Regions from separate parts of the Homo sapiens genome. Here all the other regions are linked to region 1. Evidence: fine-mapped expression QTL. A gene starts in region 1. Each other region holds a variant in brackets. All regions are shown on one strand. Distances are between the middles of the regions.

Region 1 (4,349 bases):
TCTATTACATAAATTTCATTTTAGCTTTAGAGACAGGGTTGTCCAGGCTGAAGTGCAGTGGCACCATCATAGCTCACTGTAACCTCCAGCTCCTGGGCTCAAGCCATCCTCCCGCCTCAGCCTTCCAAGTAGCTGGGACTACAGGTGAGCACCACTGCCCTAATTTTTTAAATTTTTGTTGTAATCTCCAGCTCGTGGGCTCAAGCCATCCTCCCGCCTCAGCCTTCCAAATAGCTGGGACTAGAGGTGTGCACAACTGCCCTGGCTGATTTTTTAAATTTTTGTAGAGCTGAGGTCTTGCTTTGTTGCCTAGGCTGGCCTCGAACTCCTGGCCTCAAGCAATCCTTCCACCTCAGGTTCCTAAAGTGCTGGGATTACAGGTGTGAGCTACTGTGCCTGGCCCTATTACATTAATGTTCAATATTTTACCTTCTCAACATGTTTTCTGGTTCAGAAAATAGGTATATCTTTGTTTTGAACATCCAATTTTCTGAAAAATGAGTTTCTCTCTTCTAAATACATTTTGAATATTTAAAGAATATTGAGGCCACCAAATTATTAGCACATCCAGAATCCCCCTATTTCATCTTGGTCTTGCCTTAGGAATTGGCTACAGCTCATGCTTCCAGAGGCCCAGGCCTGCCCTCCAAACTGTTTTTGTTCCAAGAGAGGCCCCCTCTTTAGCACCTGAAAGGTCATGAGGGACAGGCACAGGGTCACCCAATCTGGGGCGATAAGTTTTAATCATTCCTCCCCTACGTCCTCCAGTCCTGCCGGGCTCCAAACCAGCCAATGCTGCTGCTTACAGAAGGCCACTTGGTTTAGTCATTGGCTAACGCGGAGGCTTCCCCAATCCAAGCAAGCCCTCGGCTGGCAGCCCCAGGCACTGCAGTTAGGCCTGGCACCGGAGTGGGCAGCGGACTTCTTTGCTGAGGGGATTTATTTATGGTCTTGTTTGTGGAGCTGAGTGGACGGAGCTGTGCAGGTTGGCCCAGCCTCCTCGTGTTTACTCCTTCAGCCCCAGCCTTCAACCGTGTCCGGTTTCCTCACCTTCCTCTCCAGCTCTCAGCAAAGCCAGTCACCAGCGCACACCACCCCGGGGCACTCTGCCTTTCAGGCAACTAGTTTATCCTTCAGGGACTGGCCTCCCTTCCCCCAGCCTCAGGCTATTTCCAGTCCGGTCTCCACCTGTTCCTTAGGATTTGAGGACATCCAGGCAGAACCAGGGAAATGCCCGAGGCTTCCAATTCGCCCCCACCTCTCTCACCCCAAAGCTTTCGAAACTCTTCTCCAGGGCTAGGCTGGGACCGCGGGCTGTCCAGTACCGCTGAGTCCCCAAGCCCCACTGCCAGCAAGGCCGCCAAACTCAGAAAGGAAACCCTGAACTTGTGCCCTGGGTTCTGGTTTTTCAGACGCGTTCACGAAGTTCCACCGCTGGACCCGAAGCGAAAGCAGCAGCAATTATCAGCACTAGGAGACGCAGCCAAAAATCACCGGGATCTGCAGTTGTTTTTCTCGTCCTCTCTCCCCTAGCTCCAGTTTCCTTTTCTTGCTATAAGCGCCCTCGTACCCCTATTCCTTCTAAACCAACTGGCCACTGGATCTCGCTCATCTGTGGTCGAGTTTCACTGTGAACTTCCCCTAGGCCACCCAACGGGACCGACGTGTAGAGAATTTCATGGGCCCCCGTATCACCGCCCTTAAAGACACCTCACGTCCTGGCAGGTGCTGGGGCGCGGGAACGGGGGCGCAGCGCCCCAGTCTCAAACACCAAAGCAGGCAGGGTAACCCGGTGCCACCCCCTTCCACCCACTTGCCCCGCGCCACCCGGAAAAAAAAATCCCACCCCACTGCGACTTCCGAACGTCCCCCACCTCGGCTCGGCTCTTGAGGCTGCTCCGCTTAGGTCGGAGCAGGACATCCTTGAAGTCGAGCTTGAGGTCCGCATCTATGCGGGGCATGGTGCAGCGGCTCCTGGCTGCGGCGGCGGCGACGGCGGGGCGGGGGCGCCTGCGCGGGGCGGCGCGGGGAGCGCCGGGGCTGCTGTGCCGCGGCCGGGAGCTGGCGTGGGCCGGGTGCGCACGCCGCGGTCTTAAACACGCCCCGCCGACCCGCGGTCACGCTTGGCCCGCCCCGGGCACCGCCTCCGCCTCAGGCAGGGGTTGAGAGGCAGACTGGTTAGGGACAGATTGGCGGCGAAGCCCTTCCTCCTCGCGCCGCCGCCCCCGTCCTTCCCCCTCAGGTGTACAGCCCGTGGCAGTGACCGAATGGGGACGGGGGAGGGAAATGCGCACCGTTCTGTTTGTCCCCAGGGTCCCCGATGGAGAGGGGACTTAGCGTGTGGCTGCCTTATCCAAGGGAAAAGTCGCTCCCTGAGAGCTTTTACTTTTTTTTTTTTTTTTTTGAGACAGTCTCACTGTCGCTCAGGCTGGAGTGAGTGGCGCTATCGCCGCTCATCGCAGCCTCGACTTCCTGGGCTCAAACGATTCTCATGCCTCAGCCTCCTCGAGTACAGGCGCACGCCGCCACACCCAGCTTATTTTAAAAATTATTTCCTAGAGGCGGGGTTTCACCATATTGCCCAAGCTGGTCTCGAGCCCCTGACCTCAAGTGATCCGCCTGCCTCGGCCTCCCAAAGTGCTGGGATTACAGGCGTGAGCCACCGTGCCCGGCGGATTCTCCTTTTTTAAAATTCAAGCCCGGTGTGCTCACCCAGTGTTGAGGAGCACGTCTCTCACTTGCCAAAGAACCAGAAACCCCAGGGAGGTTGTATAGAATTAAGGAAAAGAACGTGGGCAGTTAACTGTTTAGCTGTACTGGGATTGTGGAGGCCATGATTCCCTTTGGACTTGTTGTTAAGAGACAAGGTCTCACTGTGTTGCCCAGGCTGGTCTTGAACTACTGGGTTCAAGCAATCCTCCCGCCTCAGCTTCCCAGTGTTGGGACTACTGGCGTGAGCCACTGCGCCCAGCCTGGATTTCAGGATTTTTGTTTAAGAAAAACAGTGAGGTCTGTAGTCGACGCAGATCCTGAGATTTGAGGAGCCTGAGTCCCCTCTGAGGGTTACCAGTGATGTGAGTTCGAGGGGTTACCAGTGATGTGAGTTCATTGATTCACTTATTGACCTTACCGACCTTTTATTATACATTTGAAATGTGCTGCCGGGCTTCATGCATCATCTCATTCACTCTCAGAACAACCCAATGAAGAAAGAGCCATTTCACAGATAAGGAAAAACGAGGCTTCTATAAATGAAATAACTTGCCTAAGGCCGCAGAAAAATTCAATATAAATTTCTCAGTCCTTAAAACTTGCTACAACTATTCACTGAAGCTGCTTTTGTCCTGGAACATCTCTGCCTGAGTTTGAAACCTGGTTCCACCACTGTCTAGCTAGGTGACCTTAGGGGAGTCAATTTCTCTAAGTCTCAGTTTTCTCATAAAAGGGGTGGGGGCAGGAGGGGGGGTTAACCCTATCTCCTCCCTGGTTTTTGTGAGAATTAAAGTGTGTGTGTTTATGTAAGCACAATGTCTGTCCCATAGTAGTTGCTCAATGCATGGTAGTTACAGATTTGTAGTCACATGTTACATTATGTGCATTGTGTTTGTATTTTCAAACTAGAATGCTAACTGCACAAAGGCAAGAATCATCTTTCATTCTCTTCCATTTTTCTGCAGCCTCGAACTGAGCTAGCAACTGTTCTCCTTGAGCTAGCATGTGATAAGGCTGACCATAAAAGATACATCACAATATTCAATTTAACACAAATGTCTGAAGATGATAAAGGTCTCAGCCCATCCCACATGGTTTCATTAGCTATACCCCAAAGGAAGTTCATGAAGTTTCAGGGAAGGAAATGAAACTTATCAGAGAGAATGAAAGTAGCCACAATTAGTCCAGCCCATGCAATGTTTATAACCCTTGACGAATTCTTGGGAGCTGGCCAGATGTGCTGCTTATTTGTGAAGTACGGAAAGGAAACCTAATTCTGATCTTTTAAAGATTAAATAGAGGTAAAATATAATTACTAGATGGTATGATTATTTTTAAATTATTATCCTTAAAGGGAAGAGAAACTGACCTTGTTAAGCATCTGCCAGCGTGGATGAGGGCTTTATTCATTGTTTCATACATGGTCTTAAAGGAGAAGCTTCTGTAGGTTGTCCTTGCTCTTTCCCTCTGGTTCTCTTTCTTTCTGGCTAGCCCTCCTTTTATTAGAATAGACAGAGAAGTTCATTTTACACATTCCATTCCCTCTCCCTCTGGAACATTCCTCTATAACTGCCCTCTTCTCTGACACAAAATCATACTCCTGTTAGAGTCAGCCTGAGTCCCTGATTCTTCTAAAA
Region 2 (4,349 bases), 45 kb after region 1:
TTCAGCCTCCTGAGTAGTTGAAACTTCAAGCTTGGGTCACTGTACCTGGCTTCTCCCAATTATTTTGAAGCAACCCTTAGACACCATATAATTTTATTTGAAATATTTTAGTATGTATCTCTGAAGACTCTATTTTAAATGTAATTACATCATCATCTTATCCCCCAAATTGTAATTCTAATTCTTTAATATCCATGTTCCTATTTTCCTGATTATCTATAAATGTTCTGGTTCTAATTTGCTTTGTTGTTTTTTGTTTTAAAGTGCATTTGAAATAGGATCCACAAAGCTCTATATATTACTGTTGGCTAATAATAAGTTCTTAAGTTTCTCTCTCTTTTTAAAATATTTAAATAGGGTCACGCTATGTTCCCCAGGCTGGTCTTCAACTCCTGGGCTCAAGAGATCCTCCCACCTCAGCCTCCCAAAGTGTTAGGATTACAGGTGTGAGTCATCATGCCCAATCCTCAAGTCTCTTTTAATGTAAATATTCTCCCTCCTTACATTTGTCTTTCATTCTTGTGATTGTTGTTGTATAGAAGAAATAGACCCTTTGTCCTGAGTTTCTCATAGTGTGGATTTTTCTGATTTCATCCCCACAGTGTTGCTTAACATGCTCCTCTGTCCTCTGTATTTTCTGTTAGATACAGGTGCTTGAACAGATTTTTTTTTTTTTTGCAAGACTATTATATAGGTAGTGTGGAATACTTCCATCAAGAATCATAAAATGTCACTTTCTAAATGTTACCAGCCATTGTTGATCATTGCTGAGAAACATTAATTCCTTAATGATTCAAATAGTGATATTTTAATTATTTCTTCTTCATTTGTTGGGTAGATTACTTATGTAAAAAGAAACTTGCCCTTGTTAAATATTTGGTTACACTGAGATACAGTTCATATAAAAAATGAAAGAAAAAAATGCTTGATTCTTTCTCCCTATTGATCAGTTTTCAAAATAGTGCATCGGTTCCCTAGAGCCTCTAAAGAATACCAAATGTGTTTCTGTTTCAGTGTTATTATAAACCAATGGATTTAAATACAGTCCATGTGTTTCAACAAATATTTTCTATTTGTTTACATCCATTTTAATTCTTCTCTTTATTGATGCTCAAATTTGTTCCTCTTTGCTCAATAAGAGCTCTTCAGCCTTAAAAAACGATCCCAGTCATTTTCCTGCCATGTGGTATGACAAGATGTTCTATGCTCATCTTGTACATTTCCAGCTCCAGATATCAAATCAGCCATTTCTCCAAAGTGCCCTGGTTTCTTTTAGTGGGAAATGGTATTTAGAAACCACAATCTAAATATGACATTTCTGAGTTTAATATAGACAAAATCTCCTCAGGCTTCACTTATTTCATATGACAAAAAGCAAAAACCAAAACACCTTATTTGAACTTGGTCAATTTATTTTCTTACTTTCAATTTTCTCATTTGTAAAATGCAGATGATAATAATCCTTGCTTATAGGTTTTGGTGCAGATTAAACAAGTCAATACATGTAAAGCATTTAGAATAGCACCTGTGCAAGCGAGCGCTTAATAAATGTTAATGATGATGGTGATTGAACACAGCATTAGCTTTATAATCAGATCTCGATATATGGTGATTGATTTTAAGATCAAAATATTCTTCTTTGACAACTAACAACTCTCCTTGATTATCCATCCAGACATCCCAAATTCACTTGACCTGCTTTCAGCATTCACATTATTGCAGCGGGGTTCAATGGAAGAAGTCAAGGAGAAAGAGCAACCAACTTCAAAGTTATTTTTTGCTTCTTGGAAGACCATCTGCTGTCATGACCCATTTCACGACATGCAAATTCATCAGCTGAGCTCAATTTCCCTTGAATCAGTGGCCCAGTAAATATAATTACTCTGCTAATTTTAAATTCCAAATGGTCAGCTCAGGTTAAAGAATGCTCATTCAGCAGTTGAAATTCTATAACGAATTGAGAAAACAGAGGGTCTACATGCCAGGATTTTGACAGAGAAGCAGGGAACAATTTTGTTTCTTGTCACCTCCTAGGCCAC[G/A]GGCACACAACAAATAGGAACATTTCCAAATATTTTCCTCTGAATTTTTTTTGTGTGTATGTGTTTGAAATAGGAACTTGACACTTCAGAGAATGGGTAAGGAAATGTGTCTTCACAAACCTGGACTTTTCAAGACTAGGCTGATCTCTTTAAGAGGAATGGGGTGGTTGGTTCTAGAATAAACTATTCAAAGCCCACATTAAAAATAAAGTAATTTGTGACAATGAAACGTTTTCGAAATAATGCATTTGTTCCCTAGAGCCTCTAAGGAACATCAGTGTGTTATTGGACTGGATAATGTACCAAAAACTGCTTTAAAGGATATTATTAGGACAATTATTAGGACATCAGTGTGTTATTGGACTGGATAATGTACCAAAAACTGCTTTAAAGGATATTATTAGGACAATTGGTAAATTTGGCATAAGATTATAGATTAAGGTATTATGTCAATATTAAGTTATCTGAATTTTATTACTTTCTTGTTCTTAGAAAATATACACTGAAAAAATATACGCTGAGGAGTAAAGGGTCATGAAGTCTGCAAAGTACTTTTAAATGACCCAGAAAAACTTAATGTGTGTGTCTGTGCAGACAGAGAGAGTGAGGAGAGAGTGCATGCACACACAAGAGCTCAAGTGTGTCAAAATGTTAAAAATGGATATGGTGAATTTGGGTAAAGGGAATAGGGGAGTTCTCTATAGAATCCTTGACAGTCTGTTATAAATTTAAAATTATTTCTAAATAAAATGTTTGTTTTTGCTTGTTTTTTTTGAGACAGAGTCTCGTTCTGTCACCCAGGCTGGAGTGCAGTGGCGCGATCTCGGCTCACTGCAAGCTCTGCCTCCCGGGTTCACACCATTTTCCTGCCTCAGCCTCCCGAGTACCTGGGACGACAGGCACCTACCACCATGCCCGGCTAATTTTTTTGTATTTTTAGTAGAGACAGGGTTTCACCGTGTTAGCCAGGATAGTCTCAATCTCCTGACCTCGTGATCCGCCCACCTCGGCCTCCCAAAGTGCTGGGATTACAGATGTGGGCCACTGCACCTGGCTAATTTTTTGTATTTTTAGTAGAGATGGGGTTTCACCTTGTTAGCCAGGATGGTCTCGCTCTCCTGACCTCGTGATTCGCCTGCCTCAGCCTCCCAAAGTGCTGAGATTACAGGCATGAACCACCGCGCCCAGCCAGAAAGGATTTTTAAACCTAGTGTTATCCCAGCAGCTGAGTGCACTGGCTCATGCTCGTAATCCCAGCTACTCAGGAGGCTGGGGAGGGAGGATCACTTGAGCCCAAGTGTTCAAGATCAGCCTGGGCAACATAGTGGGATCTTCTCTCTTCAAAAAATAAATAAAATGAAATATATTATTACCCCATTAAAACACACTTTCTCCAGCTGGGTGTGGTAGCTTATCCCTATAATCCTAGCACTTTGGGAAGCCGAGGTGGGCGGATTGCCTGAGCTCAGCAGTTCAAGACCAGCCTGGGCAACATAGTGAGATCGCCCGTCTCTATTAAAAATACAAAAAATTAGCCAGGCATGGTGGTGCACGCCTGTGGTCCTAGCTACCTGTGAGGCTGAGACAGGAGAATTGCTTGAACTCAGGAGGCGGAGGTTGCAGTGAGCTGAGATTGCACCACTGCACCCCTGCCTGGGTGACAGAGTGAGACCCTGTCTCCAAAAAAACAAAACAAAACAAAAAAACACACTTTCTCCAAGATTGTTCCTGTGTGTGTCCCTGATGAGACTGCCTTGCCTGCTTACAGGTCAGAGGTGTGTAGGACAGGATTCCTCCACTGAGTTAGAGATGGTCTTGGATAAGAGGTAGCAAAACCAGGCTATGCCCAATAATCAATTTAGAAACCTTAAAATTAAGATTCCCAGTGTCCTGCCTTTAAGCTTTTGTAAAGAAGGCCCAGAGAGGGCCCCAGGAATCTGTATTTGGAAATCACTAACCAAATAATTCTCATGTAGCCTGTGTACAGACCAACACATGAGGAATACCAGACTAGACAACCTCTAGAATCCCTTTGAGTTTTAAAGCATCAGATTTTATCAGCTGCTAGGTTAGTGTTGTTTAACACAAAATGTGATAAGTTCAGACAAAAAAAGGACTGTACACAGGAAGGGGAACATCACACACCGGGGACTGTTGTGGGGTGGGGGGAGGGGGGAGGGATAGCATTGGGAGATATATCTAATGCTAAATGACGAGTTAATGGGTGCAGCACACCAACATGGCACATGTATACATATGTAACAAACCTGCACGTTGTGCACATGTATCCTAAAACTTAAAGTATAATAA
Region 3 (4,000 bases), 52 kb before region 1:
CTGGTAAAGCACGAAGCTTCTTGAACATAGGTCCAGCTTAGTGCCTCCTCCTTACCCAACCATGCAACCTCCTCCTCTATCAGGGACCGCTTGGGGGAAAGAGGGCCTCGGGGGCTACCTGGAAGGAGTGAATCCCTCATTTCTGATTGGTGCAGTCCCCATCGATCTTTCCCATCCTGCTTTTCCCATACTATAATATCTTTATTGGGGTTCACCACCAAGAGAAAGAGACTTGAGGAGAATGAGAACTGAAGTAAGTCCGCTAGAACCCCACGGATGAATAGAACTCTGGTAGAATACACCCCACTCCCCCCAATCCCCCCACCTACAAATCTCAGTGGAGTTCTGAGATTTTGCTGCTAGCTTGGTATGAACCTTATATAATACATCTGAATCCCAGGTCCTCAAAATGACCCTCTGGGTGTGGAATGAGTGGTAGGAAATAAAGGGTGTCAGTCAGGGAGGGCTTAGGTTTCCACTCCAGCACCGGATAGAGTCTGAAAATTGGAGGGAGAAGCCTGAACTTTCCTGGAAAAAGGCAACCAGCCGATTCACAGGCAACTTCCCTCTGCAGATGGAGAACCTTTGCTCCTGTACCCATTTTGTATAGCTTGTCATCGGCGCTAACCCTGATGAGAGTAACAGTAGGCTCTATGGAGCAGGGTGAGGCAGCGAGTATACTGTCATCAGGTTCTTTTTTTTTTTTTTTGGCAGGGTATCACTCTGTTGCCCAGGCTGGAGCACAGTGGCACGATCATAGCTCACTGCAGCCTCCAACTCCTGGGCTTAAGCCATCTTCCTGCCTCAGCCTCCTGAGCTGCTGGGAGTACAGTCATGTGACACCACACCCAGCTAATTTTTAATTTTTTTGTAGAGACAGGGTCTTGCTATGTTGCCTAGGCTCATCTGGAACTCCCGGTCTCAAGCAGTCCTCCAACCTTGGCTGCTGGAAGCACTGGGATTACAAGCATGAGCCACTGTGCCTGGCCCCATCATCAGGTTCTTAAAACACACATGCAGACAGTTAAAATGGAAGGGAATCAGGAAAAGACCCAGGTGTCTTTGGAGACCATGGATTAAAAACATGCATCAGGAGCCAGGTGCGGTGGCTCATGCCTATAATCCCAGCACTTTGGGAGGTCGAGGTGGGTGGATCACTGGAAGTCAGGAGTTCGAGACCAGCCTGGCCAACATGACGAAACCCCATCTTTACTAAAAATACAAAAAATAGCTGGACATGATGGGGGGTACCTGTAATCCCAGTTATTCGGGAGGCTGAGGCAGGATAATCACTTGAACCCGGGAGGCAGAGGTTACAGTGAGCTGACATCACACCACTGCACTCCAGCCTGGGCGACAGAGCACGACTCCACCACAAAAAAATAAAAATAAAAAATAAAAAATAAACACACATCAGCAGAAGTAAGCCCCACTTCTACAGTGGATGACACAACTGAATGGCTGAAAATGCTGCTGTGTCGGCTCTCGGAGCCTGGAGGAAGGTGAGAAGCGGTATGAGCTGTATGCAGCATTCTTCAGGAAAGGCCTGGCCACCGTGCAGTGGTCTAGACCACACCTATGGCTTTCTGTGCAAGAGGAGAGCCATTCTTCAACTCAATCCTTTCAGCCTGAACTCTTCTCAAGCCAGAGATCTAAGCTTACAGGGATAGCTCAGCACAGGCTCTACTGGAAGGACAAGACAATAATTCCACCTACCCCCAGAGGTCTGAAGTATTCCCTTCAGGACTGGCACCCACTCACATATAACCCTGGTCACACTTCCAACCCATCACCAAACACTGCTGCTCTGTACTTGCTTTTGGGAACCCCAAACACTGCAAATGCTAACTGGATACAAATTAGGGGTCTTTAAAAAGAACCCCTTCCCACGGTACTTTAATATACACAGAGCTGCTATTCAGACCTGCTTCCATCCCATCTCCGTAAGAAAAGCAAGGCCAGGCCTCGAGGGTGCGCCCCGGGGTCACCTCCTCACCTGT[A/GTA]CTCAGCAACTCCTCCTGCGTGCTTGTTCATGGCGGTGTCAGAGCTCATCCCGTAGAAGAGCTTGAGCTTCCGTCCGTTCCTCTCAAACACTTCTCCAGCACACTCCGTATGACCCGAAAACATTCCTCCCAGCATGACAAAATCTGCTCCAGCTCCTAAATGCCAACGGTGGGGATGAAAGCGAGTAGCAGAGAAAACAGCTCAGGGGAAAAGGCTCTCAAAAAATCCCAGTGCTTGCCCAGTTCACCTCCCTCCCCGCCCAGCTATAGTCAAGAGAAAGGCTGGACCTCTCTCGCCTGTCTCCTCCTGGAAAAAGGGAGAAGGCTTCCATGCAGGGAGAAAGGGCCATGGGACACTGCGAGAAACAAATGCAGCCTACTGAAGGCTAGTGTCCCATATACTGGACCATGCTGAATGGCTTTTAATGGCTAACTACGACCACCTTCCTCAGATCTAACTCTCTTAGAATCACAGAAACATTAAGATTGGGGAGTATTCTGCCAGGCACAGTGGCTCAGCCCTGTAATCCTAGCACTTTGGGAGGCTGAGGCAGGTGAATCACTTGAGATCAGGAGTTCAAGACCAGCCTGGCCAACATGATAAAACCCCATTTCTACTAAAAATACAAAAATTAGCCGGAAATCGCTTGAACCCCGGAGGTGGAGGTTGCAGTGAGCCGAGATCATGCCACTGCACTCCAACCTGGGCAACAGAGGGAGACTCCGTCTCACAAAAAAAAAAAAAAAAAAAAAAAAAAAAAAAAAAAAATTGGGCAGTATCTTAGAAAGCAAGTTACCTAATCTTGTACTTAATGCTATGACTCCTCTATGATACCCCCTCAGGTGTCTGGTCTGTACTTGAAGCTCTCCACACTCTGACACTCCCTGTGCTTATACATCAGGAAAAAGCCTCAGAACAGACTGAAGCTCCTACACTAGACAGCTTCAAGGAAAGAAGTCCCCGTGTTATGGAAGTCGTCTAAAACTCCACCCGCACCATGCTGCTGCACATTAGATTTCCAGAGTACATATTCTGCCAGACTAATCACCGAATGACAGCACATTTCCAGGACAGGCACAGGAGACAGAGGTACTGAAGCTGCCTGTCTTTGTGGGCTATGCTGGAACAGGCCCAGGGCTGGTTCTATGTTGATCCAAAGTGCACAGCACATGATAGACGCTGAATGATTAGCTGTCAAAAAAGTAAAAACGTGGGAAAAAAAGTTATCATTCCCCATTTTGTTCATGGATCACTGTGCAGTGGGATTCTTCATTGCCTATTAACTAAGGAACTGCTACTGTGTTCGGAACTGGTGGGTTCTTGGTCTCACTGACTTCAAGAATGAAGCCATAGACTCTCACTGTGAGTGTAACAGCTCTATAAGGTGGCGCGGCTGAGGCTTTTTCCTTCTGGTGGGGTTGGGGTCTGCGCTAGCTCAAAAATGAAGCTATAGACCTTCCCGGCAAATAGCACAGCTCATAAAAGCAGTGTGGGCCTAAAGACCGAGCAGCAACAGAATCTATTGCAAAGAGCGAAACAACAAATCACCCTCCCAAAGAAAAGGAGCCAGAAGGGTTTGCCACTGCTGGCTCCGGCAGCCTGCTTTTATTCTCTTATCTGGCCCCACCCATATCCTGCTGATTGGTAGAGTGAGTGGTCTGTTTTGTCAGGGCGCTGATTGGTGTGTTTACAATCCCTGAGCTAGACACAAAGGTTCTCCACGTCCCCACCAGATTAGCTAGATACAGAGTGTGGATTGGTGCATTCACAAAACCTGAGCTAGACACAGGATGCTGGTTGGTGTGTTTACAAACCTTGAGCTAGATACAGAGTGCCCATTGGTGTATTTACAATCCCTGAGTTAGACATAAAGGTTCTCCACGTCCCCACCAGACTGAGGAGCCCAGCTGGCTTCATCCAGTGGATCCGCACTGGGGCTGCAGATGGAGCTGCCCACCAGTCCCACGCCCTGCGCCTGCACTCCTCAGCCCTTGCATGG

What was found. PIP is the estimated chance that this variant, and not a neighbour inherited with it, causes the effect.
Region 2: its variant is fine-mapped to the expression of GMPR in aorta (GTEx, PIP above 0.99).
Region 3: its variant is fine-mapped to the expression of GMPR in whole blood (TOPMed, PIP above 0.99).

What each region holds. Positions count from the first base shown.
Region 1 is chr6:16,236,306-16,240,654 of GRCh38, reverse strand. It overlaps GMPR (guanosine monophosphate reductase), which reads right to left and starts at 2,068. Exons shown (of 9, transcript NM_006877.4): 1 at 1,875-2,068. The coding sequence starts at 1,961. RefSeq lists silencers at 1,966-2,065, 2,186-2,285.
Region 2 is chr6:16,191,448-16,195,796 of GRCh38, reverse strand. No RefSeq gene overlaps it. Among named protein-coding and RNA genes, the nearest start is that of GMPR, 45 kb to the left of the region's middle. The variant G/A (reference allele first, on the strand shown) is at 2,040.
Region 3 is chr6:16,288,618-16,292,617 of GRCh38, reverse strand. GMPR (guanosine monophosphate reductase) reads right to left here. Exons shown (of 9, transcript NM_006877.4): 8 at 1,997-2,156. Among named protein-coding and RNA genes, the nearest start is that of GMPR, 52 kb to the right of the region's middle. The variant A/GTA (reference allele first, on the strand shown) is at 2,001.